4 linked regions of the Homo sapiens genome follow. The protein of the gene in region 3 interacts with the protein of the main gene of each other region in a pairwise test. Each region holds a gene or a part of one and is shown on either strand. Other genes may lie near its edges.

What was found.
Region 1: the proteins of DRC4 (region 3) and YJU2 interact in binary tests that used the Homo sapiens proteins (3 or more experiments, as listed by UniProt).
Region 2: the proteins of DRC4 (region 3) and EAF1 interact in binary tests that used the Homo sapiens proteins (3 or more experiments, as listed by UniProt).
Region 4: the proteins of DRC4 (region 3) and LZTS1 interact in binary tests that used the Homo sapiens proteins (3 or more experiments, as listed by UniProt).

What each region holds. Positions count from the first base shown.
Region 1 is NC_000019.10:4,242,255-4,250,089, forward strand, and holds the start of YJU2 (splicing factor YJU2), read left to right. Parts: upstream 1-4,825; 5' UTR 4,826-4,892; coding exon 4,893-4,916; intron 4,917-6,973; coding exon 6,974-7,074; intron 7,075-7,835.
Region 2 is NC_000003.12:15,423,566-15,430,619, forward strand, and holds the start of EAF1 (ELL-associated factor 1), read left to right. Parts: upstream 1-4,032; 5' UTR 4,033-4,214; coding exon 4,215-4,317; intron 4,318-4,756; exon of another isoform or gene 4,757-5,062; intron 5,063-6,347; coding exon 6,348-6,442; intron 6,443-7,054. Other genes in the region: tRNA N(3)-cytidine methyltransferase METTL6, read right to left, coding at 1,390-1,524, 2,722-2,946. UniProt on the Homo sapiens protein: Acts as a transcriptional transactivator of ELL and ELL2 elongation activities.
Region 3 is NC_000016.10:90,039,655-90,045,461, forward strand, and holds the end of DRC4 (dynein regulatory complex subunit 4), read left to right. Parts: intron 1-106; exon of another isoform or gene 107-645; coding exon 646-855; intron 856-2,815; coding exon 2,816-2,881; intron 2,882-3,247; exon of another isoform or gene 3,248-3,541; coding exon 3,542-3,691; 3' UTR 3,692-5,306; downstream 5,307-5,807. UniProt on the Homo sapiens protein: Component of the nexin-dynein regulatory complex (N-DRC), a key regulator of ciliary/flagellar motility which maintains the alignment and integrity of the distal axoneme and regulates microtubule sliding in motile axonemes.
Region 4 is NC_000008.11:20,251,954-20,258,979, reverse strand, and holds part of LZTS1 (leucine zipper putative tumor suppressor 1), read left to right. Parts: intron 1-3,664; 5' UTR 3,665-3,798; coding exon 3,799-4,143; intron 4,144-5,394; coding exon 5,395-6,198; intron 6,199-7,026. UniProt on the Homo sapiens protein: Involved in the regulation of cell growth. May stabilize the active CDC2-cyclin B1 complex and thereby contribute to the regulation of the cell cycle and the prevention of uncontrolled cell proliferation. May act as a tumor suppressor.

The sequences.
Region 1 (7,835 bases), on a different chromosome or scaffold from region 3:
GGAAGGAACTGAGATGAGACAAATGTAAGTTTCAAGTTTTAAGACTAGGGAGGATCCATTTCTGTGTTTATTCAAATAATCATAAGTATTCGTTTTATGGAACAATTGGACCAGTTTCAGAATGTTTCCATGAGCTGAGCAGACAACATTAGGGGTTCTTTTTCTTTCTTTTTTAAAGTCTGTTAAACCTTCCATTTTTTTTTTTTCCCGAGACAGAGTCTCTCTCTGTCACCCAGGCTGGGGGGCAGTGGCGTGGTCTTGGCTGACTGTAACCTCCGCCTCCTGGATTCAAATGATTCTCTTGCCTCTGCCTCCCAAGTAGCTGGGACTACAGGTGCCCATCATCACACCCGGCTAATTTTTGTATTTTTAGTAGAGATGGGGTTTCCCCATGTTGGCCAGGCTGGTCTTGAACTCCTGACCTCATGATCAACCCGCCTCAGCCTCCCAAAGTGCTGGGATTACAGGAATGAGGCACCATGCCCGGCCAAACCTTCCACTTTTGCAAAGCAGGTTTTATTTATTTATTTTGAGACGGAGTTTCACTCTTGTTGCCCAGGCTGGAGTGCAGTGGTGATCTCAGCTCACTGAAAAAGAGGTTGGTTTTATAGACAGAAAAAGGCTGAGTAAAGCAGAAATAGAAAACAAAAAGTGGATTGGTCTTTTCAAAGTTACTTTTCTTGTCAAGTTTAGAGCAAAGGAGACTATCGTGCTGGCTAAAACAGGCCTGTTCAGGGATTTTTTTTTTTTTTTTTTTTTGAGACAGTCTCGCTCTGTCACCCAGGCTGGAGTGTAGTGGCACAATCTTGGCTCACTGCAGCCTCCACCTCCCGGGTTCAAGCGATTCTCCTGCCTCAGCCTCCCAAGTAGCTGGGACTACAGGCGTGTGCCACCCTGCCCAGCTAATCTTTGTATTTTTAGTAGAGACAGGGTTTCACCATGTTGGCCAGGATGGTCTCAATCTCCTGACCTCGTTATCCACCCGCCTCCCAAAGTGCAGGGATTACAGGCATGAGCCACAGTGCCTGGCCTTTTTTTTTTTTTTTTTGAGACAGAATCTGGTTCTGTTGCCTAGGCTGGAGTGCAGTGGCATGATCTGGGCTCACTGCAATCTCCGCCTCCCAGGTTCAAGCAATTCTCGTGAGTCAGCCTCCCAAGTAGCTGGGATTACAGGCACCCACCACCGCACCCCGCTAATTTTTTGTATTTTAGTGGAAACGGGGTTTCGCCATGTTGGCCAGGCTGGTCTTGAACTCCCGAGCTCAGGTGATCTGCCTGCCTCTGTTCATGGATTTGACTATTCCCTCTCTTTCTCTCTCTCCCTCTCTCTCTCTCTCTCCCCACTTCCTTCCAGTTCTCGATTTCTTGGAAAACCAGAAAAACAACTTAGTTTCAGCTTGGTGTAAAACTTCCGCATGAGGGACTTCATTTTGGTTTAGTCTTTTGGGCCTAGTGCAGGAGCTCAGTCCAAACCCATGGCTTCCTGTAAACTTTATTTAACACCATTCCTTGTCCCATATTATTGTCTTCCTGGTGCCAGGAAAAGGGGTCCCTAGCTGGGTGTGGTGGCTCACACCTGTAATCCCAGCACTTTGGGAGGCTGAGGTGGGTGGATCACCTCTTGAACACCTCAGGAGTTCAAGACCAGCCTGACCAACATGGAGAAACCCCGTCTCTACTAAAAATACAAAATTAGCCGGACGTGGTGGCACATGCTTTTAATCCCAGCTACTTGGGAGGCTGAGGTAGGAGAATAGCTTGAACCTGGGAGACGGAGGTTGCGGTGAGCCGAGATTGTACCATTGCACTCCAGCCCGGGCAACAAGAGCAAAACTCCTCAAAAAAAAAAAAAAAAAAAAAAAAAAAGGAAGGCTACTCAGTTACAAAGTAGGGCGTCCTCAGAAAACAAGAGGAGGAACGCCTTGTCTTTGTTTTAAGGTTTTTATTTTTATTTTATTTATTGATTTATTTTTGAGATGGAGTCTTGCTCTGTCACCCAGGTACAATGGCACGATCTTGGCACGATCTTGGCTCACTGCAACCTCCACCTGCCAGGTTCAAGCGATTCTCCTGCTTCAGTCTCCTGAGTAGTTGGGATTCAGGCATGTACCACTGCGCCCAGCTAATTTTTATATTTTTAGTAGAGACGAGGTTTTACCGTGTTGGCCAGGCTGGCCTTGAACTCCTGAGCTCAAGTGATCCTCCCACCTCGGCCTCCCAAAGTGTTGGGATTACAGGTGTGAGCCACCATGTACAACCGGTTTTTTCTTATATAGGGGTCTTATCTGTGTGAAAGCTATGTCCACGTGTAGGTGGGCTGACCGCGTGACAAAACGTAGTACTTTGTCGACTTAAAGAAAGTTATCCTGGCTGGGTGCAGTGGCTCACACCTGTAATTGTAACACTTTGGTAGGCCGAGGCCGGCAGATCACTTCAGCCCAGGATTTCCAGACCAGCTTGGGCAACATGGCGAAACCCTGTCTCTACAAAAACTGCCAAATATTAGCCAGGTGTGGTGGTACCTATAGTTCCAGCTAACTCGGAAGGCTGAGGTGGGGGATCGCCTGAGCCGGGAAGTGGAGGCCACAGAGAGCCATGATTGCGTTACTGCACTCCAGCCTAGGTGACAGAGCGAGACCCTGTCTCAAAAAGTATACATACATATCCTTGCCATTTTAGTGCCTAAGTACATTACACCATGACTATAACCATATTTTCTTTTTTTTTTTTTGAGATGGAGTTTCACTCTTGTCACCCAGGCTGGAGTGCAATGGCGCCATATCGACTCACCGCAACCTCTGCCTCCCAGGTTCAAGTGATTCTCCTGCCTCAGCCTCCCAAGCAGCTGGGATTACAGGCATGCACCACCATGCCCGGCTAATTTTGTATTTTTAGTAGAGACAAGATTTCTTCATGTTGGTCTGGTTGGTCTTGAACTCTCGACCTGCACCACCGCACCTGGCTAATTTTGCATTTTTAGTAGAGACGGGGTTTCTCCGTGTTGGTCTGATTGGTCTTGAACTCCTGACCTCAGGTGATTCGCCCACGTCGGCCTCCCAAAGTGCTGGGATTACAGGCGTAAGCCACCATGCCCGGTATCTTTTTCTTTTTTTTCTCTTTTTTTTTTTTTTTGAGATGGAGTCTCACTCTGTCGCCCAGGCCACAGGGCAGCGGCACAATCTCGATCTCAGTTCACTGCAACCTCAGCCTCCTGGGTTCATGCAATTCTCCTGCCTCAGCCTCCCAAGTAGCTGGGATTACAGGTTCCCGCCACCACGCCCGGCTAATTTTTGTATTTTTAGTAGAGATGGGGTTCCACCATGGTGGCCATGGTGACCAGGCTGGTCTCGAACTCCTGACCTCAGGTGATCCACCCTCCTTGGCCTCCCAAAGTGCTGGGATTACAGGCATGAGCCACCGCGCCTGGCGACTATAACGATCTTAAAAGCATACATTGCTATGCAATATCAGGACATCTGGACCTTCCATTGTTGTAGTAGTGTGTCCTCCTAGGCATTTGTAAGACGTTTTCTCAATTGTAAACATCTTATGACCCTGGCTCGTGACTGGCAGCGAATGTGCCTTGTTAATTTTAAGATGGAGTTGATTTTTGGCCAGGTGCAGTGGCTCATGCCTGTAATCCCAGCACTTTGGGAGGCAGAGGCGAGCAGATCACCTGAGGTCAGGAGTTCGAGACCTGCCTGGCCAAAATGGTGAAACCCCATCTCTACTAAAACTACAAAAATTAGGCAGGTGTGGTGGTGCGTGCCTGTAATCCCAGCTACTCGGGAGGTTGAGACAGGAGAATCACTTGAATCCTGAGGTGGAGGTTGCAGTGAGCCAAGATCGCACCACTGGAGGCAGAGGTTGCAGTGAGCCAAGATCGCACCACTGCCCGTCAGCCTGGGCAACAGAGCAAGACTCCTCAAAAGATAAATAAATAAACAAACAATTGCCACAGCAACATCAAGAAGTTACCCTATATGGTCTAAAAAAGGGAGGTATGAATAATCCACCCCTTGTTTAGCATATCATCAATAAATCACCATAAACATGGGCAACCACCAGCCCTTGGGGCTGCTTTGTCTGTGAAGTAGCCATTCTTTTATTCATCTACTTTCTAAATAAACTTGTTTTTGCTTTGCACTGTGGACTCGCCCTGAATTCCTTCTTGCACGAGATCCAAGAACCCTCTCCTGGGGTCTGGATCCGGACCCCTTTCCTGGAACAATCTGACACAGAGGAAACGTCCATGAAAGGTGGGGAGGAGGCTGGGGAAGGAGGCTGGGGAAGGAATGGGATGGGAAGTCCTCGTTAAGGGGAAGGCACAGGTGGGCAATGGAGGGACATTTGGGAGACACTGCGTATGTTTAGGAAGTTGGTTTGGAGCCTGATCTTTAAGTCAATGTCTGTGACTCAAGAGTCGTCCAGGGTCCTCTTAAGTCACCCTATGTGTGGCCCCAACCCCATGTGAGAGTTGCGGGCCCAGGAACGATGTGTGGATTCCCAGAGCCCAGAATACAAGGCAGGCGCATAATACATATTTGCTGAATAAAAGAATGAAGAACAAGAGGTCACGTTACAAAATTTTAACGAGCCGCTGCCCGCTTCTAGGGGGCGCAGCGCACTATACAAAATTCTCCAATTCCACATGGCTCCCGGAATCCTTATTTCGCGCTACTCAGGTTGCAACTCCGGAGGGAAGACGCTGGGACTTCCAGCTTGATAGGCGGGGATTGGAACCAATGAAAGAGGTCTGCTGTGTATGCTGCAGCCAATAATAGCGGCCGAAGGAAGTGACGTTTGCGGAAGTAAGGCTTCCGTCGGAAAAGCTCGATAATTACCCAGCCTAACCATTTCTCAGGTGCTTGCGAGGTGATCAGAAGGCAAAGATGTCGGAGCGAAAAGTATTAAACGTAAGTGTTGGGCGACTGGGGCTTTTCAATCGGAGCAGGACATCCCGGAACTCCGGGAGAGGGAGGAGCTTCCTGAGATCTCTTCTTTGGAACCCTTCTTTCCCAGCGGCCTTCCGCGAGATGGGGCTTCCCAGACTCCTCCCTAGACTCCTCCCCATCGCCTTCCGTCGGGGGGGTGGGCCTTCGCTAAGTCTCCCTTCTGGGCTGGGGTGTAGTTAGTCACCTGCGGGGCGTGGCTTGGGCTTTTACCCAATCACCACCAGATAGGGTTTTTTTTCTGGGGGCGGGGCTTCCTTAAATGCTGGCGGCCGTGTTTTGCCCTCTTCTTGAGGGGCGTGGCTCTGAGAAGCCCCGCCCCACTTGGGGACTGTAACCAATCGTGTACTTTGGGTGGGGTGGGGTGGGGTGGCGCGTGTGTGTGTGTGTGTGTGTGTGTGTGTGTGTGTGTGTGTGTGTGTGTGTGTGTGTGTGTGTGTGTGTGTGTGTGTGTGTGTGTGTGTGTGTGTGTGTGTGTGTGTGTGTGTGTGTTTTGTTTTTTTTACTGGGGTCTGGTCATGCAGATAACCTCTGCCTTACAGTGGCCAAGATTTTACTGGGGTCTGGTCATGCAGATAACCTCTGCCTGACAGTGGCCAAGATTCCAGACTCCCAGAAGAAAAGCAGAGGTTCAGTATAAACTATACTGTTGGCACACTTCTGTTTTTTGGTTTTTTGAGATGGAGTTTTGCGCTTGCTTCCCAGGCTGGAGTGCAGTGGCACGTTCTTGGCTCACTGCAGCTTCTGCCTCCTGGGTTCAAGCGATTCTCCTGCCTCAGCCTCCTGAGTAGCTGGGACTGCAGGCGCCCGCCACCATGCCTGGTTAATTTTTTTTGTATTTTAGTAGAGATGAGATTTCACCATGTTGCCCAGGGTGGTTTTGAACTCTTGATCTCAGGCATTCCACCCACCTCATACTCCCAAAGTGCTGGAATTACAGGCGTGAGCCACCGCGCCCGGCCCCACGCAGGTCTTTCTAGGAGAGCAGTCTCAGGCTTGCTGTAGGAACTCCTGGGAAACAGGAGCCCTGGGATACAAAGGGAGTGTGAGTATGGATTATGACAGATACCTCCACTGCACCACTGGAAAATAAAGCACTTTGTGTTTGGAGCACCTACTGGGTGCCAGACACTGCAAAGAGCACTTTATCCCCCTTGCCTCAAGGAATGCGTGCAAAGACTCTTGGAGACAGAGGACAGTGTGCGCATTTCACAGAGGAGTAAACTGAGCCCTGCAGGTTTCAGCTCCTCAGGATTCAGATCCAGGGAGATGACTCTGTAGGAAACGGATGTAGTATCGTGATTGGGAGGCTGAGCTAACAGAGTCCTGGTTTACCCTCTACAGAATTGCTGGGGAGTTGGGACTCCTCGGGGAACTCGGTCTCCTGCCTGAACAACAGAAGTGCTAAGCAAAGCTTAACCTCTACAAAGGGCAGGGCATGATGGCTCACGTGTGTAATACCAGCTCTTTGGGAGGCCAAGGCAGGTGGATCACCTGAGGTCAGGAGTTCGAGACTAGCCTGGCCAACATGGTGAAACCCCATCTCTACTAAAAATACAAAAATTAGCGGGGAGTGGTGGTGGGCGCCTGTAATCCCAGCTACTGTAGAGGCTGAGGCAGGAGAATCGCTTGAACCCAGGAGGCGGAGGTTGCAGTGAGCCAAGATCGCGCCACTGGACTCCAGCCTGGGCAACAAGAGCAAAACTCCGTCTCAGAACAAAAACAAAAACAAACCCTGGCTTTTTAGAGCTTCCCGTGTAGACAGCATTTCATGTGTATTGTCATGACTGGTATTTAGGAGAATTAAATGCGTCCTGTATAACTCCACTAGGAGAGAGTCAGGAAGCTTGTGCCTGGCCTCCCTCTGACTGTACTGAGTCCTGCGAGTCCTCCCTGCCTGTCGCGGAACCTGGGGTGGGCTTGGGGACCCCCGACACAGCTCCCCAGAGCCCCTTCCCTCTGCCATGTCCTGCCCCTGCTTCTGAAAATAACTCCCCCAACGTTTCCTTCCTCCCCTGCAGAAATACTACCCGCCGGACTTTGACCCATCAAAGATCCCCAAACTCAAGCTCCCCAAAGACCGGCAGTACGTGGTGCGGCTGATGGCCCCCTTCAACATGAGGTGAGCACCCCCTGCGTGACCCCACACACCAGTCATGGCTGAAGGACGCAGTGCCTGGCATCCACAGAGGTGACTCGTCCGGTGTTAAGACCAGATCACTGGTCTTAGACATTGTCCTGGCTCAGACATTGACCATTCCAACCCTCCTTCGCCTCACCACTTGGGATTAAGCTTTGGATCTTTTAGAGCCCTCCAGCCAGTGCCTGCCTTGAGATCATGGTGGTTAGTAAACGTGTGTGCAGAGAGGATAGGACGCCACAGAGATGCAGCCCCATAGATATATTTCAGCTCCTCCAACAGCCAAGCTCGTTCCTACCCCAGGGCCTTTGCACACACTGCTGCCCCTGCTTGGAACTCTCTCCCTCTACTTTCTTTCTTTCTTTTTTTTTTTTTGTTGAGACAGAGTCTTGCCGTGTTGCCCAGGCTGGAGTGCAGTGGCGTGATCTCAGCTCACTGCAACCTCCACCTCCTGGCTTCAAGCGATTCTCCTGCCTCAGCCTCCCAAGTAGCTGGGATTACAGGCGTGCACCACCACGCCCGGCTAATTTTTGTATTTTCAGTAGAGTTGGTGTTTTACCATGTTGGCCAAGCTGGTCTCGAACTCCTGACCTCAGGTGATCTGCCCTCCTTGGCCTCCCAAAGTGCTGGGATTGCAGGCGTGAGCTGCCGCACCTGGCCTTCTCCTTCTACTTACACATGGCAGGCTCCTCTTGTCTGCCATAGGTCATGGCTCCAATCTCACCCCTCCGGGAGGCCTCCAT
Region 2 (7,054 bases), on a different chromosome or scaffold from region 3:
CTACAAAAATTTAAAAACTAGCCAGGGTCAGCTGCCATGGCTCACGCCTGTAATCTCAGCACTTTGGGAGGCTGAGGTGGGAGGATTGTTTGAGCCCAGAAGTTCGAGACCAGCCTGGGCAACGCAGTGAGACCTTATCTCTAAAATAAATAAATAAACAAATAAACACTAGCTGGGCACGGTGGCACATGCCTGTAGTCCCAGCTACTTGGGAGACTGAGGTGGGAGGATCTGCTTGAGCCAGGGGGGTCAAGGCTGCAGTGAGTTGTGATTGGGCCACTGCACTCTAGCCTGGGTGAGAGTGAAACCATGTCTCAAACAAAAACAAAAACAAAAACCAGCTATAAAAGACACCTGGAAGCCAGGTACAGTGGCTCATACCTGTAATCCCAGCATTTTGGGAGGCTGAGGCAGGTTGATCACCTGAGCCCAGGAGTTTGAGACCATCCTGGGCAACATAGTGAGACCCCATCTCTACAAACAATTAAAAAATTGTCTCTGCTACTTGAGAGGCTGAGGTGAAAGAATCGCTTAAGCCCAGGAGGTTGAGGCTGTGGTGAGCCATGTTCATGCCACTGCATTTCAACTGGGTGACAAAGAACCCATCTCTAAAAAAAGTAAAAAATAAAACTAAAAGACACCGGGAACTATTTGGGGAAATCTGAATTTGGAATGGATGTTAATAACATTGGGGGATTATGTTATTTTATTTGTTTATTTAAAGACAGTCTTGCTCTGTCACCTAGGCTGGAGTGCAGTGCTGCAATCTTGGCTCACTGCAACCTCCACTTCCCTGACTCAAGTGATCTTCCCACCTCAGCCTCCCAATTAGCTGGGATTACAGGTAAGCACCACCATGCCCAGCTAATTTTTGTATTTTTGGTAGAGACAAGGTTTCACCATGTTGCCCAGGCTGGTCTTGAACTACTGGGTGCAAGCTATCCACCAGCCTCAGGCTCCCAAACTGATGGGATTACAAGTGCGAACCAACATGGCAGGCCAGATTATAGTTATTTTTGTGAAATATGATAAACTTATTGTGGTTGTGTAGAAAAAGGCCTTTTTTAAGGGGAGATGTATGCAAACATTTAGGAGTGAAATGTCTTGACATTTGTAATATACTTTAAAATAGTTCAGCAAAGAAAAATTGTAAAGCAAAAGATGTTAATTATATGGATGTTATTATGGTATTTTTTCCTGCTTTTCTTGAATAAAGCTGTGTTTCTACATGCACTGTATATGTATGTAAGCAGGACAACTACATGTATGGTGACTATAGCTGGTTAGCTCCAGGGAAGACTAGAATTGGGCAAATGAATAAAAAAGGCAGATCAAACAAGATCGGCAAGAAAACAGAAACACAGCAGAATACATAGATGGTGCACCAACCTTAACATATTCAATGGCTCTTGGAGAAAAATCACAGGCATAGGCAAAGATATTCGGATCTTCTTCTAAAAGTGGGAATAAACAGTTTCCAACCCCACAGCCAGCTTCAAGCATTGTTAACTTTTGATCTTCAAACTGGGGAAAGACAGCTCAAAGTTATAGTATATCACATTTGCATAATGAAGAAATAAACCAAACTAAAAGGTCCAGAATATGAGAGGTCTCCGACCCCATGGAGCAGACGATCAACAAGAGAACTAATAAGCAAAAGCTAATACTGGTACTTCATTTGTCATCCAACATTAACAATTTGGTGTGGAGGAAAAAAACAGCACAATGGCTAACTCGGCTCTGGAGTTAAACTGCCAGCACCCAAATCTCAACTCCTCCCCTGCATTCTATCCTTGGGTAAATCACTTAAACAGCTCTGTGCCTCAATTTTACCTTGGGGACAAATGAGTACAATACTAATACTTACACTTCACAGAGCCGGTATAAGGGTCAAATGATAGGCCATGTAGAAAACAGCCATGGTAAATAGTTACTAACATTAACTATTATATTATTCTGAATCTGTCACTGAAGTCACTTAGCATGAATTTATATTTTTGTTTTTAAAATTTTTAATGTTTAAAATTTTAAAATTCAGAACATAGGGTCTCACTATGCTGCCTAGGCTTGGCTAATTCATGTTGACTATTCACAGGCACAAGCCGCCTGCCTCAGCCTCTGGAGTAGCTGGCAATAGCCACCAGACCTGGCTCTTGAATTTAATATATAATGTTTACAACTATCAGATCAGCTTAAAGAAATAGAAAACACCCACTAAAGTTCTCTCTCCTATATGTTAACCAAACCAGAAACTGCTAAAACTTTGGTGTTAAGACCAAACAGTATATTTCTCTCCTAAAACGCAAAGCATTTTGATAGGCTTCTTAAATTCTCTACTTCGCACTCTCCCTAGGAATGCAATACAGCACACCTCTTCACATTTTTTTTTCTTTTGAGACAGAGTCTCGTTCTGTCACCAGGCTGGAGTGCAGTGGCACAATCTCGGCTCACTGCTATCTCCGCCTCCCGGGTTCAAGCGATTCTCCTGCCTCAGCCTTCCAAGTAGCTGGGACTACAGGCGAGCACCACCACACCCAGCTAATTTTTGTATTTTTAGTAAAGACGGGGTTTCATCATGTTGGCCAGGATGGTCTCGATCTCTTGACTTCGTGATCCGCCTGCCTTGGCCTCCCCAAGTACTGGGATTACAGGCATGAGCCATGGCACCCTCTTCACATTTTAAATGAAGAACAGCTCAGATAAGGCGTAATATTAGCTTACCTCTCTACATGATCTTAGCTCCTCAAACTCTCTGGTGGTCCAGTGTCTGTCTTTGAAGAAATTAGTGCTATTTCTTTTGTAAAAAAGATCCCAATTTTTCTGAGCCTCTTGTTCCAATTTCTGCTGTTTAAAATCAGACACCAAAGTTTGGTCTCTTTTCAGTTTCTCCTCTTCTTCAGAGGTGAGAATCCTTGCCTGCAGCCCTTTCCTTTGCAAAGAAGCCATCTCTGAAACTGACGGTAACACTTAACACAGCTGAAGATTCTCCATCACCAAATAATATGAATCCACGCTAATGGATCAGATACATTTCCTGAGGTGAGTTTCACGCCTCAAACAGCACAGGGGGCTTCGCAGAGAAAAGAATTAGATTCTGGTTAGTGGTTACAGTTCAAGACGCCAGGTTCAATTCACCAAATGTTTATGAGATGCAGACTGTACAAAAAAAAATCCTTCCCGCTATATGAGAGGTCACAAAGAAGACAAACACACAGTCCCTACCTTCAGTGGGCTTACATTCATTTCAGTGGCCAGACTATCTCATGCACCATACTTTTATTCAAACCAGATGAGTCAACTATTACAATAAATCGATTTAGTTTACGAAAAAGGACGCTCTCAAGAACTGACTGGGAAACCTTGCGAAGAAAATATTCCTCAATTTTCGGTGCCCGCGAAAGGGGTGACTTAAAAACCACAATGGCCTTAGCTGGAAGCGGGTGGTCAATTGTCAGATACAAGTGAGGTCATCGTTTCCCAAGGGTCGGACCTCCGTTTTTTCGGGGGAAATGAAGCTAAGCCTGGGTGGGCTCATTTCCTGATCACACTCACAAGAGGCTGTCATAGGAACCAGAGGGAGCGTCACTTTGCAGGGACTGAGACCCTCGCACCGCCATCACCGGGCAAAGTGGAGAAAGAGACCCAATGACGCGTGGCTGAGGTCCCGAGGATCCATCTCAGGACCCTCAGGATAGACTAGGCTGCATGGGCCCCTAGACCCTGAGGAGGGCGTCCATGATGGCTAGCCGACCCGCGTTAATTTAGTCAGCCACGCTCAGGGCTCACCGTCATCAGTTCCTAAATTCACCTGCAGGGCTAGGGCCAGGCGCACTCACCCCACAGCCAGCCCCACTGGGCCTCGGAGGCAGAATACGGGAAGAACCGCGAAACAACCCTAAACCAATTCTGAGGACCACGAATTCGGATTATCCGGGAGTTCTTTTGCCATGGCACCGCCCCCGCCACTTCCGCTAGGAACCCGGAAGTTCCTACCCGACGCCGGAAGTCCCACGGCCTTGCCTCCTCAGATTCCTCTCTCACCCCCACGCAGAGGAGAGAACTTGCTTCTGGACCCGGGTGGGTGCCGGCTCGGCTCTCCTTGTCTTCCAGAGCGGTGGCCCGGAAGCACAGTCCTCCCAGACGCCAGCGCCAGAAGCTCGGATCGCGGCTGCACCGGGAGAGCGCCGATCTGGGTGCGAGGCAGGTGCGGGGCCATGAATGGGACCGCAAACCCGCTGCTGGACCGCGAGGAACATTGCCTGAGGCTCGGGGAGAGCTTCGAGAAGCGGCCGCGGGCCTCCTTCCACACTATTCGTTGTAAGTCAGCGCTCCCCACGGTTCCCTTCGGCCGCTCCAGCCGCCACATATCAACCTTGACTCCTTCCTTTCTTCCCTCGGCCCTTCAGATTCCAGGGAACCCCCTGCCAGCGTCAGTTACTTTCTCTCGAACCCCAAATCCTTTGGGACATCGATTTGTCCCTTCTTTTACCCAGATTATTTCTCCCAAATCTTCGTCACTCCCTACTATTCTTCTACCTCACAGTCTCAAACACTAGTTCCAAAGGTCTTTGGCCTCTTTCCATTTCCATCCCTCCCCGCCCCCAACCTCGCCCCTAAGGCAAACCTCCCTCCCCCAAGGCAAACCTCCCCCCTCTTATCCGGGTCCACTTCTCCCTCGAAACCCCTCCCCTCCTTTCCGATGCTCCCATCAGGGTTCTCCACATTTAAAAGACGCTTCTTGTTTGTTATGAGCCTCATCCACTGCCTTAGAACCCATTCTCTTCCCTGCTTTTCTCCTCCGACTTGGTCCTGGACTCCCAAATACTGTGCTTTGTCCCCTCTACAGCCAAAGAATTGGCATCCTCTCTGCGCCTCATCAGAGTCTTCTTCCATCTCCTTTCTGTGCTTCATTTGACTTGGATGTCTTTTGAGGTCACCTATACCACCCGGGCTTTTCCTCCAGACCAAGTTCCTTGTGGGTAAAGAGTCAAATCAGAGTTCGTGAGCCTGGGATAGGTTAAAGATTGGTCTACGTTTGGAAGCAGAAGAGAGCAGGCGTAAGGAATGTCCAAATAGTCATTATGCCGGACCTTTTTCTACATAATTATAGACGCTGTTGAGAGAGTGCACTTCCACCCTATGTCCTGGGTGAAGGTTTGGCAGTTAGGAATTGGCTGACAGAGCATCCCTCCGTGATTCATGAACTTCTGGTTTCCGTGGTGCTAACGCTGTTGTTAAGACTTGTTTTTGTCAGAGGACCTAATAGATGTGACTCAACACATGTGAAGAGGGCGTTTTAGATAATGAAATCCCATCTTTGTGTAGTCACTTGCCATGCCATTGCTATGCTTCCTACTGACAGCAGATCCAGCTCTTTCAGAGAGAAGAGATGGGAATAAGATAAGAACATCATTTCCTGAAGAGTTTACTAAGTTGATGTTTTCTTTTGGTGAAGGGCAATGTGGAATTTAAATCATATAGTTCATGTGTGCACCTGTCCTGCAGTTTGAGGCAGGTGTGAATGTGAATTAAGATGGCTATTATGTTGTATTCTAACTGCAGTTTAGAAACACGAGCAGGATAACTTGCGGAGATACAGTTCAGTTGTCTGCTATGAACATCTACGAAGTGTCTTTGTTAAAGCTGTGGAACTGGCTGAGAGTGGTGGCTGACACTATAATCCCAGTACTTTGGGAGGCCGAGGTCGACAGATAGCTTGAGCCCAGGAGTTTGAGACCAGCCTGGGCAGCATAGTGAGACCCCATCACTATTAAAAAAAAAAAAAAACAAAAAACAGCTATGGAACTTGAGTATGGCAAATCCTAATTTTGACAGTTTCTATGCGGAATGAAATCAGCTTTTGATGATGCTGTGGCCTTTCATATTTCATATAGAGTTTACAGTCACAGAATCTGTTTCATATGCTGTTACTTTTGATCCTCACAACCCTAAAAAAGCAACTTATTATGGATGATGAGACAATTTTCCTCTCTCCCTTGGGAGAAGGGAATATCTTTGTTTAATAAAATGGCCTGTAAATTCTTTTTTCCCTCTAGAATAATCAAAAGGGGGTCAGAGGAAAAGTATGTGGAGGTGTAGATGAAACAAGATTGTCCCTGAGTTGGTAATAATTGAAACTGGATAATGGTATACCAGGTCTCATTGTACGATTCTCTCTACTTTTGTGTATCTGAAGTTTTCCATAACGAAACAGTTTTTTAAGAATTCTAAATTATTTTTATTTTCCATTCATCTGAGTAATAATTTTAATTCTTAAATGGAGATGCCCAGGAAACCCTTATTATAAGTAACCTGGTGGGTAAGTGCTTTTTTTCCTTTCCCTTTAGATGATTTTAAACCAGCATCTATAGACACTTCCTGTGAAGGAGAGCTTCAAGTTGGCAAAGGAGATGAAGTCACAATTACACTGCCACATATCCCTGTGAGTTTATTTCATTTTTTTTTTTAATGTAAGATCACAATGAATCTTTGTCTTTTATATTATTGCAATTTAAACTTCCTACTTTTAAAAATGTTTAGATTTCTAAAGTGGCAACTTAAGGAAAAAAGTAATTTTGGGGAGTGGGGTGGGGTGGACTTCATGCTAGGCAGGTGCTTGATTAAAAATAATTCTTGTAATCCTAGCATTTTGGGAGGTGGAAGTGGGTGGATAGCTTGAGTTCAGGAGTTAAAGACCAGCCTGGGCAACATGGTGAAACCCCGTCTGTACCAAAAATACAAAAAATTAGCTGGGGGTGATGGCACATGTCTGTGGTTGCAGCTGCTTGGGAAGCGGAGCTGGGAGGATCGCTTGAGCCTGGGAGGTAGAGGTTGCAGTAAACCAAGATCACGCCACTGCACTCCAGCCTGGGCGACAGAGTGAGACTCCCCCTCAAAAAAAAAAAAAAAAAGATTATTCGTCGTTTTCCCCAATCTTCCTTTTCCCCCATCTGCTACTGAGTAGACAAGGTTCCTGTCTGGACACCTAGCCCCTCTTTTAGATATAGCTTTTCTCCCAAGCAACTCCAGACAGAAAAGCCCTAGGTGCCCTGCT
Region 3 (5,807 bases):
GGGATTACAGGCGTGAGCCACCACACGCTGCTCAGGGTGTTCACTTTTTTATAGTCTTCAACAAAGTCTAGATTTTTTTAGAATGCACAATTAATAAGTAGAAGAATTAGGAGATAAAAAAGAACAGTTTTACTGGCTGGCAGGTAGCTGGCTCCAAGGCCGTGCTCCAGATCCACCATTTGTGGGGCGGACAGCACATGTGATGCCAGGATCTGGGGCTGGCCAAGGGAGCATATCCTCCAAGGGGCCCCACCTGCAAGCTCGGCCTGCTGGATGCCCTGGATCTCAAATCTCACCTGAGCCCACAGCCCTCACTCGGGCAAGACTGGCCTCGGCCACCCATGAAGCAGCTTTCAGGGTGGGGCTGCTTCAGCTCTTACCAGGACACTTATGGCTTCCAGAGACACCTTCCTGAGAGAAGGGCTTATGCTGATGTGTTCCTCCTGCCTTCCACTGCGTGGATGGCTCTACAAAGGGCCAGGGCGCAGGCAGTGTGGACAACACACTGACCCCGGTGCTGTGGGAGTGGGCACTGTTGGGAGGCAGCGTGTTCCAGGCAGGTGCAGAGGTGGGAGGCAGCATCTTCCCAGCGAGATGTCCCCAGGTGAGGGGCCTCATCGCCCACCCCCAGCGCTGTCCCTACAGGTGCAGCAGGAGCGGGACGAGCTCTATCGGAAGTTCACCGCAGCCATCCAGGAGGTGCAGCAGAAGACAGGGTTCAAGAACCTCGTGCTAGAACGCAAGCTGCAGGCTCTGAGCGCCGCTGTGGAGAAGAAGGAGGTGCAGTTCAACGAGGTCCTGGCTGCCTCTAACCTGGACCCTGCAGCCCTGACGCTGGTGTCCCGCAAGCTGGAGGTAGGCCCTAGACAGGCTCCTGACCCCAGTGGGCGGCCTCATCCCTGTGGCAAGAGTCTTCAGTTCTGTGCTGCTCCTCGGATAGGCACAGAGACCCCTCGGTCGGCCACTGAGGAGGGGCATTCATGGGTTTCCTGTGGCCAGTTTCGGGCCAGTTGGGAACTGTGGAAGGGCTGGGCAGGGGAACCAGATCAGGGCCCACTCTGCTATTGATGGGGAGCACAGGGCTGGAGGGGGCTGGTTGGGGCCAGCACAGAATGGGGACGGGCAGAGGGTTGGAGAGCCGCCAGGAGGCTGAGTCCACAGGTGGGGCTGGGAGGGGCCGAGGTGACTTGGTGTTTGCACATGGGGGAACGACGGGTCCCGGCCCAGTGGGCGGTGGTGCCTGTGGGACCCTGGTCATCTGGGATGGCCTGGCTCTCAGGGCCTGAGGTAGTGAGGCTGTATAGGAGGGGCCTCACCTGGGCCAGAGGCACTGTGGCCCCGGGACTGAAAACTCATCTTTGTTTGCTCAGCACTGGGCCCAGTGAGCACAGGCAGGTGAGGGAGTGAGGGTCCCACTGTTGGGAGGTGGGGGAGGCGTGTTTCCAGCTCCTGGCTGAGGGCTGCACCCAGCCTGCTGCTAAGCCACCGAAATGAGGGTGAAGAGAGCAGTCGTGGCCTGTGAGGGTCATTGCAGCTGCGCCCACGCGCCAGGGTGAGGATGGAGGATGGAGCTAAATGTGGGTCAACCCCTCCTTTCCTGGTCATTGTTACCTCGACTTCTAAGTGAGGAATCTTCTGGGGAAATGACAGAGGCCCCCGCAGGGACACTGTTTGCTGCTGGCCAGGTGTGAGGGGGCTGCTGTGTCAGTGGGCAGCAGGGACGGCTCTAAAGCCAGGCTGGGCCCAGCAGTGCCCCACAGGCAGGAGCCCAAGAAGTCCCTGCCTCGCCACGTGGTGAGACCCTTGCCCACATCTGGGCGGGGCCAGCGCTGCTGAAGACTACTTTTTTCTGTTACAAAAAAGTGGGATAGCCGGGCGCGGTGGCTCACGCCTGTAATCCCAGCACTTTGGGAGGCTGAGGTGGGCAGATCACGAGTTTGGGAGTTCAAGACCAGCCTGGCCAAGATGGTGAAACCCCGTCTCTACTAAAAATACAAAAATTAGCTGGGCTTGGTGGCGGGTGTAATCCCAGCTATTTGGGAGGCTGAGGCAGAGAATTCCTGGCACCTGGGAGGCGGAGGTTGCGGTGAGCCTAGATCGCGCCACTGCACTCCAGCCTGGGCAACGGGGCGAGACTCCATCTCAGAAAAAAAAGTGAGATAGTACATTCACAAGCCTCAAGAAATTTAAGCAATATGTAGGTGGTGTTTAGTGACCAGTCTCCACAGTGTGGCTGCACGCTGCCTGCCCTCACCTCATCTGCATTTCTTGTGGTCTGGACTGCTCTTTGAGTTTTTTCTTGAGACGGTGTCTTGCTCTGTCACCCAGACTGGAGTGCAGTGGCTCAATCTCGGCGCACTGCAACCTCCGTTTCCCAGGTTCAAGCAATTCTCATGCCTCAGCCTCCTGAGTAGCTGGGATTACACAGGTGTGAGCCACCGTGCCCGGCTACTTTTCGTATAGTAGAGACGGGGTTTCGCCACGTTGGCCAGGCTGGTCTCAAACTCCTGACCTCAAGTGATCTGCCCTCCTTGGCCTCCCACACTGCTGGGATCACAGGTGTGAGCGGCAGTGCCTGGCCTGGACTGTTGCTGGAGAGGCAGGTTGTGCAAGCTCCCAGTTCTCTGCTTCTTCCTTGTTTTCTCTCCACCCTTGGAGACCTTTTTCTGCTGACAACCCTGTGTGGATGGATGCATCCATCAAACCAGGCTGCTATTCGCTGGATCTCTCAGAACGCCCACTGGAGTCCCCAGGCCGCTCCCGTTGCCTCGGCCAAAAGATGAGTCTCAAACTCCCATCACCTCTCTCTCCTCAGGATGTTCTTGAGTCGAAGAACAGCACCATCAAGGACCTGCAGTATGAGCTGGCCCAGGTCTGTAAGGTACGGCTGTGCCCTGCCCTCCCTCAGGGGCACCCCCTCGGTGCCCAGACTGTTCTAAATGCAGACGGTCTCTGAGGACCCCACCTGTGCCCACTTCGTACCTCGTTTGACAAGGCAGCTGTCACTGTCCCCACGTGAGGGTGCAGTCATAGCCGAGAGCATCTGGATTCTGTGTGGTCTGGGGCAGTGCACTGCTGTCTAGGCCATGTCTCTGCTGGGATGGGTGTAGGGGGGGACCTGGACGCTTCCCTGGTCAGCCCCTTCCCCTGGGCAGGGAGTCAGAAGGTGCTGTGCCCACCGGGGAAGGAAACAGACGTCATTCAACAGGGGAAGGGAGGGCGTGAAGAACCTGAGTGGGAAACACCCAGCCAGGGCCCAGAGCCCTCCCAGACCACAGCTCTGCCCTGAGTGTCCCTGCCCTCTGCCTCCGTCTCGTCATTTGTGGAATAGGAATAGTGACAGCCTCTCCCTGTCGTGCTACCTGAGCCAACGCAGTGAAGGTGCTTGGAGCTGTGTCCCACACGGGAAATGACTGATAAGCCTTTGGCTTTATCCTTCTGCACCGTGATGCTCACGCTGCCCCTCCATGGAGCTGCACTCAGCTCTGGTGGTCCTGAGCGTGGGGACCCTCAGCTCCCTGACACTGCCCTGTCTCCACAGGCCCATAACGACCTGCTGCGCACGTATGAGGCAAAGCTGCTGGCCTTCGGGATCCCTCTGGACAACGTGGGCTTCAAGCCCTTGGAAACAGCTGTGATCGGACAGACACTGGGCCAGGGCCCCGCGGGACTGGTGGGCACCCCGACGTAGCTGCCCCCCTGGGGGGCCACAGCCCAGAGAACCAGCCTAGGAACACTCGGGATGACACCCCTTATCACACCAAGGACAGCAAGTTTTTTAGATTTTATCATCAGCAAATGAAAGCTTTTCACATGTTCTTGCCATCCTCTTTCCTGGCTCTGTGGAGGAGAACCACCTGCAGGACCCTCACCCATGGTGTCCCTGTCGCTCCCTTCCCTGGGTGCCGCACGTCCAGCCTGTGTCCAGGCCTACTCCCTGGTCTCACCTCCGACCACAGTCGGCGGCACCTTCTCAGAGTGCCCCGCACTCACCTGGGGGTTGGGGCAGTGCCGCGCTGTGCTGCCTGTCTTCGCGCCACTGTTGTCCCACCGAATGGACAGCTTTGCAGGTGCTGGCACTAACTTCATTGACACCTGAGTCACAGCTGCCCAGTGGGATTCTCCAGGGGGCCGGGACTTCCCTAGGAAGTGGTGAGCCAATGCTCCCTGATGAGCACAAAGCCCGCTCTGTTGAGGGCTGGGTGGGTGCAGCCAGCGTGCGGGAACGGGCAGGCAGCCTCCCGCTGCCAGTCTTCGCTCTAACTCCCTCGGTAGGTGATGTAGGACCAGGGGCACGTGGAACTTCTGGGCCTTGCTGGTGATGGTTAAAACAACCTGAGATGGAGAGGCCAGGAGAGAGTATAAGGGGATAGCAGCAAACCACCTATCTGGCCCCAACACACCTGAGAGAATTCAGCAGCCCAGACTGAGGGTCTGGGATGGGGTGAACCTTCCGCACCAGAGGGACACTCCACAGAAGCCACAGCCCAGTAAGTCAGGCGCTTCTGCGGCGGCTCCAGTGTGGGGTGAGGCAGTGAGGTTAGGCCCAGAGAGCTGGAGTTGGCTCAGATGAAAACCTCTGTCAACAAAGAGGGGATGAATCACCCTTGGCCCAGCCTCCCCACAAAGCCTGACCCTGGGCAGGTGAGTGACGGGTGTGTCCTCGTAGAGTCTATTGCTGCCTGGACACCTTTCTTTTGGGAGCTCAAAGCAAGTGAGCTCACCTACCTGCCACCGCCCAGGACCAGTCTGCCCACTGCCTAAATGATGCCCGGCCAGCAGGACCTGGCCTGCAGATCCCAGTGAGTCATGAGCCTCAGCCCCCTCCAGCCCACTGGGGCTCTCACCTCCACATGTGGGTAGAAGCTTTCCTGCCCCCTCTTCCTCCAGTAGCCCTCAGTGTCGAAGGTGAGCTTGTAGGTGCCTGCCTTCATCTGGTCCAGGACAGTGACCATCTGGGTCTGTGTAGCTGGGGAGAGGATGAGGCTGCAGAGATGGGGACCAGAAGCCCCCCACCCCAGCTTTCCTGGGTCTGCATCCCAGTGGGCCTCAGACACTGCCCTGCCACCTGTCAGACTTGGGTGAGCAGACACAGTGAGGCTGTTAGGTCCTGCAGTTCCAGAGCAGTCTAGGGACACCACTGCCCTGTCTTTAGGAAATCACAACACAGAGAAGCAAAAAGGGAAAAAGTCTCCCACAATTTATCCCATGAGCAAGAACCACTTTATAGCTGGCATATATTTTTCCAGATTTTCTCTATGCATAAGTATATTTGTTTAAAAACTTATAAAGTGGATTATACTATTTGTATTGTTTTATAACCTGTGGTTTTCACTTAAAATATTGTGTATGGCTGGCTGGGCGTGGTGGCTCACACCTGTAATCCCAGCACTTTGGGAGGCTGAGACAGGCGGATCATGAGGTCAGGGTATCGAGACCATCCTGGTTAACACGGTGAAACCCCATCTCTACCACAAAAAAATTAGCTGGGCGTGGTCACGGGCACCTGTAGTCCCAACTCGGGAGGCTGAGGCGGGAGAATGGCATGAACCCAGGAGGCGGAGGCTGTAGTGAGCCGAGATCGTGCCACTGCACTCCAGCCTGGGCGACAGAGCGAGACTCCATCTCAAAAAAAAAAAAAAAAAAAAAAAAAAAGTGTGTGGCTTTCTGGGTCAATAACTACCAAACCTTCACCCACAGAGTGGGCCTGTCCAACTCCACGGAGCGTCTGTGTTGTGTGCCCTGGTCCCTTATCAGGGTTCTGAATAACCGTGGCTTTGCCCATAGTCACTTCTGGAAAACCTCCC
Region 4 (7,026 bases), on a different chromosome or scaffold from region 3:
GATGGATGACCTAGGGGGATGAAAACACATTTTGTCAGTGTCAAGTTTATATCAGCAGAGCCACCCTGTGCTCCTAAGTCACACCTCGCAGGAATGGGAGGCAGAAAGGTTGCATTTAGAAGGAAAGGATTAGCTCTGGAAAGTGAGTTTGGACATTGAGGCTCCCCAGATCCATAGGGATGATGGATGTTGGCAAGGACAATGGTCACAATATAAGTAACAGATACCGATAACACTGCCTAGCATTTATTGAGTGCCCACTATGTACTAAGTATTGAGTAAATGTTCCAGAGCTGTTATCTTATGGTGGTATTTCTTAAATTTCTCATAACGATCCTATGAGGTAGGCTGCTTCACTGTATTTCCTCGAGTATACAAAGCCATCAATTCAATAAAAGCTTTTCACATCAAAACATATTAAACTTACACAACGAAGTTTTGTTGTGTCATGCTTTTCCTAACAAAATATAGAACATATTCATAACATAACCTCTTTATTCTTCAGGATGATAACGCAAGTTTGAATCGAAGCCTAGATATTCAGAGTCACAGAGTCTCCATGCACAACTGCTAATTGTAAAAAATATATATATAATAAAATTAAAATTAAAAAACAGAGTCAGAAAGTTTCTGGCTCCCTTTCAGCTGTGCCCATGCAGTTCTCCATGTCCCACCTGGGATTTCTTTAGCCCCTTTAGGATGGATGGTATAATTTAGAGCTCAGCGAAGAACAGAGGCTCCTTCCACATCTCCTGTTTTATTAAACTTGTGGCTTTCCCCTTCTTAATTGGATATCTGTCTTTTGACTAAGAAATACTTCACAGTGCATGACAATCACCAACCTTTCCTAGCTTTGAAAATTGTGTGATCTAAACTTAGAGATTTGCCTGAATCTGCACATGTGCTGGCACTGACATCCCAATTTCTCCTGTCTGGTGACTGACAAGGTTGTTATTGTTTAAGCATTGATTATTAGATGCTATCCTATTACTTTAAAAAAAAAATGTGCCCAGTCCGGTGGCTCACGCCTATAATCCCGGCACTTTGGGAGGCCTAGGCAGGTGGATCACCTGAGGTCAGGAGTTCGAGACCAGCCTGGCCAACATGGGAAAACCCCATCTCTACTAAAAATACAAAGATTAGCCAGCCAGTCATGGTGGTGCTCACCTGTAATCCCAGCTATGTGGGAGACTGAGGTGGGAGAATCATTTGAACCCGCGAGGTGGAGGTTGCAGTGAGCCAAGATCATGCCACTGCACTCCAGCCTGGGCAACAGAGTGAGACTCTATCTCAAAAAAAAAAAAAAAAAAAGTTTAAGGGTGTCTTAGAATTAGTTTGTAACACTGAAGGTTAAAGATATTAAACAGTTTACCTTCCATGTCATAGCTGGCAGGTGATGTAACTAGAATGCACACCAAGTCGGCTGGGTACTTCTCAACATTAAGGCTGTAATGACTTTCTCCTTCTTTCTCTCTTGAATCTTCTCAATGAGGCCTTCCTTCCACCATTCCTCCAAAACTGCTCTTGTCAAGGTTACCAAAGATCTCCACATGGCCAAATGCATTGACTAATTCTCAATTGTTATCTTACTTTCAGCAGCACTTGACAACTTTTTTTTTTGAGACAGGAACTCAGTCTGTTGCCCAGGCTGGAGTGCAGTGGCGTGATCTCAGCTCACTGCAACCTCCGCCTCCTGGGTTCAAGCTATTCTCATGCCTCAGCTTCCTCAGTAGCTGGGACTACAGGTGCGTGCCACCATGCCCAATTTGCCTGGCTAATTTTTTATATTTTTAGTAGAGACGGGGTTCCACCATGTTAGCCAGGCTGGTTTCAAACCCTTGACCTCAAGTGATCTGCCCACCTTGGCCTCCCAAAGTGCTGGGATTACAGGCTTGAGCCATTGCGCCTGGCCATTTGACACCATTTTTAGGAAACAATTTCTTGACTTGGCTTTCTTAGGTCTTCTATATCGACATCACCCTGAAAACCTTCTCTGCTGCTCTTTTTCACTTCTCCTAACCTGCCTGACCTCCAGATGCCGAGTGCTCCATGTTAACCATCCTCAGGCCTCTCTTGTCTTTCTGCATCCGCTCTTTGGTGACCCCATCTAGTCTCATAGCCACTTCCACACTCCCAGCTCTGACAAGTGCATCTGCAGCTCCCAGCAGCTGCCCACTCACCCTCCTGCCTACTCTCCATCACTCCCTGGATGCCAAATAGGCTTTGCAAACTGAATGTCTTCAACCAAACTCCTCTCTTTGGCATTGTCCCTGACTCCTCTCTTTCGCTCACTCCCTACATCTGATCCTTTAGCAAGTCCTGTCAGCTCAACCTCAAAATTACATTGAAAACTGTTTTTTAGAGACAGGGTCTCACTGTGTTGCCCAGGCTGGTCTTGAACTCCTGGCCTCAAGTGATCCTCCTGCCTTGGCCTCCCAAAATGCTGGGATTACAGACGTGAGCCACCACCACATCTAAATCCACAACTACCACCCTAGACTATTAGCCTGTAATTGGCCACCACTTCTATCCCCCGTCTCCTCAATAAGCTTCTTCCCCACCCGGAAGCCAGAGTGACCTTCCCCAACCTAAGGCAGATCAAGGTGTCAGCTGCTTAAAGCCATCCAGGGGCTCCTTGTCTCAACCCAAGCAAAGCCAGAGCTCTTTGAGCTGCACAGCCTCCTTGTTCTCTGATGTCTGCTGGCTCCTGGTTTCTGTTTCTCCTTCCCAGCCTTGCTAATTGTTCTCCAGCCAGGCTGCTTCCCATGTGGGTCTCACACAGCCAAGCCCCCTCTGCCTCAGGGACTCAGGCTTTTATACTTGGGGTTTCTTCTGGTACCCCTCTCCCCCTAGATTTTCATATGACTTGCACCTCATTTTCTTTTCTTCTTCTTCTTTTTTTTTTTTTTTTTTTTTTTTGAGTCAGGCCCAGGCTGGAGTGCAGTGGCACAATTGTGGCTCACTGCAGCCTTGATCCCCGGGGCTCAGACGATTCTCCCACCTCACCCTCCCAAGTAGCTGGGATTACAGGTGTGCACCACTACGCCCGGCTAATTTTTGTATTTTTAGTAGAAATGGGGTTTCTCTAAGTTGCACAGGCTGGTCTCGAACTCCTGGACTCAAGCAATCTGCCCACCTCAGCCTCCCAGAGTGCTGGGATTACAGGTGTGAACCATCATGCCTGGCTGCCCCCTCATTTTCTTGAAGCCTTTTAAAATGCTACCCTAACAAAAGAAGACCTTCCTGCATAAAACAGCCACCTCCCAGAATTCTGTTCTGTCCTCTCTGCTCCAGTTTCCCCCGCAGCACTGGTACCCGCAGCACTGGTACCCGCAGCACTGGTACCACTTGCTATAGTATACATTGGTTTGCTTCTGGCCTCTCCACACCACTGTAACCCTAAGTTCCAGGAATGCAGGGACTGTGACTGTTTTAGTCACTTGCTGGGTCCCGAGTGTTTAGAGTAGAGGCTTGCATGAAGTGGGCTCCCAGTGAATGTTTGTTGAATTATCAGACAAAGGAAGAAGGAACGGAGCACCCGGTGGTGGAGACAGTGCTGGGCTCTGACATGTGTTTCTCTACTGCCCAGATCTGGAAGTCGGAATCAGCACTGTGCTGTGACCACTCCCACCCACGCTGACTTCTGTCTTGTGTCTTCTTCCAGGTCTACGGCTCTCGCAGGCTCTGTGAGGGCTTTGCTATGACCTCAGTCCCCTCACGGAGCCACGACTGCCCCTTGCTGCCACAGCCTTTCCAAGACCCTGCCCGGCCCTGCCCCATCCTCAGCCCCGAGTCACCATGGGCAGCGTCAGTAGCCTCATCTCCGGCCACAGCTTCCACAGCAAGCACTGCCGGGCTTCGCAGTACAAGCTGCGCAAGTCCTCCCACCTCAAGAAGCTCAACCGGTATTCCGACGGGCTGCTGAGGTTTGGCTTCTCCCAGGACTCCGGTCACGGCAAGTCCAGCTCCAAAATGGGCAAGAGCGAAGACTTCTTCTACATCAAGGTCAGCCAGAAAGCCCGGGGCTCCCATCACCCAGATTACACGGCACTGTCCAGCGGGGATTTAGGGGGCCAGGCTGGGGTGGACTTTGACCCGTCCACACCCCCCAAGCTCATGCCCTTCTCCAATCAGCTAGAAATGGTAAGCGGGGGTCGCTGGCAAGGGTAAGTGGGTTGGAAACGCAGGAGAAAGCAAAATGGGGGTGGAGAGCCTGGGGGTTCAGGGGGAGTGGTGACCTGAGCATTCAGACTCCTCAAAACCAGAGCGGCAGGGGTGCCGGCGGAAGCCTGTGGCCACACCGCAGAGATCAAACGTTTCACAAAGGAATTAGAGCATCGCTCAGTCCCCCTGAAGCAGAAGTCTTGGGTCAGGCCATAAGCAAAGAGCACAGGGGATATGTGAGCTTTCTGGAGTCCCACTGAAATGTAGCTGGATTGTCAACGTAGGATCCAGGCGTTTGCCAAGCCTCGGGAAGGAGAGGGAGCCCTGTTCTCATCTGGAAGCACAGATGAAGAGGATGCAGGCCGGGAGTTAACCGCTTCTCTCCCCGGGAGACTCGTGGGGGTGGGTGCGGTCTTCTCATTTGCTGCCCTGGTGTGCATTAGCTCCTTGTTCAAGCTGCGCCTGGGGGCATCTTTGAATACAGGCTGGAGTTTTGTCATCCATTTACCAGAGATTAGGGCAAAGGAGGCCCAGGCACTGAGAAATCCAGCCCTCACACCAGCTCAAGCCCTCGTGCGTCCCACGAGTGGACACTGAAATCAATTTTCCTATTCAGTCCTCTGCCCCTTGCCCTGGGGAAATGAATCCCCGGCTTTGATTTACTAGGAAAGAGCCTCTTATGTTTGCATAGAGCATTCAGCTTTTCAAATTAAGGGGCTTGTAAACTGTGAAGCACTCTACCAGGGAAAATTACAGTTTTAAAAAAGGATCGTGATTTGGAGTGAGCCTCCCAACCCTGTAAGGAGGCCAGGTCCGTGTCCTTGCTCCAGGCTTAATGGAAGAGGCAGTGAACAGGAAGAAGGGATGGACCTAAAGAGGGACAGCAAGCTCGGCCAGCCTGATGCCCTAACTTGCCCCACACAGAGACCTAGAGCAGGAGCCTCAAGATGGTATTTATCACCTCGGGAGGGCTGGGGCAAGCTGGTGGCAGGTTGCTATTTCATAGAACAAAGTGCCCAAGTCGCCATTAGGGTTTTTCCTTCCTAAGAGAGATGACATTCAGCTGCTTCAAAGCAACAGGCAAGGTCTGCTGAGACAATTGACCAAGAGGGGTGCTGCGTGCGCTCAGAGAGCCCAGACTGGCTCAAGGTCGGCACGCGTGCCTGGGGAGGGAGGGTGCAATGCGCGCGCAGGGGAGGCATGAGTCACCGCGGTCCTTTTCCTCTACAGGGCTCCGAGAAGGGTGCAGTGAGGCCCACAGCCTTCAAGCCTGTGCTGCCACGGTCAGGAGCCATCCTGCACTCCTCCCCGGAGAGTGCCAGCCACCAGCTGCACCCCGCCCCTCCAGACAAGCCCAAGGAGCAGGAGCTGAAGCCTGGCCTGTGCTCTGGGGCGCTGTCAGACTCCGGCCGGAACTCCATGTCCAGCCTGCCCACACACAGCACCAGCAGCAGCTACCAGCTGGACCCGCTGGTCACACCCGTGGGACCCACAAGCCGTTTTGGGGGCTCCGCCCACAACATCACCCAGGGCATCGTCCTCCAGGACAGCAACATGATGAGCCTGAAGGCTCTGTCCTTCTCCGACGGAGGTAGCAAGCTGGGCCACTCGAACAAGGCAGACAAGGGCCCCTCGTGTGTCCGCTCCCCCATCTCCACGGACGAGTGCAGCATCCAGGAGCTGGAGCAGAAGCTGTTGGAGAGGGAGGGCGCCCTCCAGAAGCTGCAGCGCAGCTTTGAGGAGAAGGAGCTTGCCTCCAGCCTGGCCTACGAGGAGCGGCCGCGGCGCTGCAGGGACGAGCTGGAGGGCCCGGAGCCCAAAGGCGGCAACAAGCTCAAGCAGGCCTCGCAGAAGAGCCAGCGCGCGCAGCAGGTCCTGCACCTGCAGGTACTGCAGCTTCAGCAGGAGAAGCGGCAGCTCCGGCAGGAGCTCGAGAGCCTCATGAAGGAGCAGGACCTGCTGGAGACCAAGCTCAGGTCCTACGAGAGGGAGAAGACCAGCTTCGGCCCCGCGCTGGAGGAGACCCAGTGGGAGGTGAGGCCACACAGGGCTCATGGGTTTGGGTGGTCAGCGGTTTGGCGCCAGTACCCCCCTCTCCTTCTGGTGCCGGCCAATAGCGTGCAAACACAGACCGCGCAGGCAAGCGGGGCTAATGTGCTGGCTTTATCACCCAAAGAAGGGGCTCCCTGCAAACCATGTTGGGGGATCGACTTACATCTGAGCTTCCTCCTGTCCCCACCATCACCCTCATGGCTCCTAGATTTCAGTTTCCCAAGTGAGCCATTAAATCATGAAGCCGGAAGCCAGATGACCAAGGCCCAGCCAGGCTGTGGGCTGACCTCCCTTCCATCAGCTCCCAGGAGGCTCAGAAGAAGAACAAGCCGTGCCTGAGTTCAGGCGGGGCCAGGGGCCCAAGAGAGCACAGAATGCATTTGTTGCTTTGGAGGGAGGGACTGCACCCACTAGTAAGAGGGACCCTATTGGTGGCAGGTTTCAGTGATGGAAGTGGCCACTCCTTGCTGAAGTGTAAGTGGAACTTCTATTTGGTGAGCTGAGATGGAAACCTAGGAGAGGAAGTAAAGAGTCCCCCACTCACACACTTACACACTCACACACACTCACTCACCCGGTCACACGTGGAAATGAGGCATCTGTACCTGACCGTGCTGGAGAACCCCATAACCTCTGCATCTATTAGTGGGAAAGCAGCTTTTCTCACCAGCCTGGTGGTCTGGATGACTCATGGAGTTCAAGCCCATCGTTGAGGCTCTTTACATGCTCGCACCCAGCTTGGTCTGTCCACGTGCCTGCCTCACCCCCAGTTCAGAGTCCAACTCTCAGTCTACACGCAAACCCCTGGCT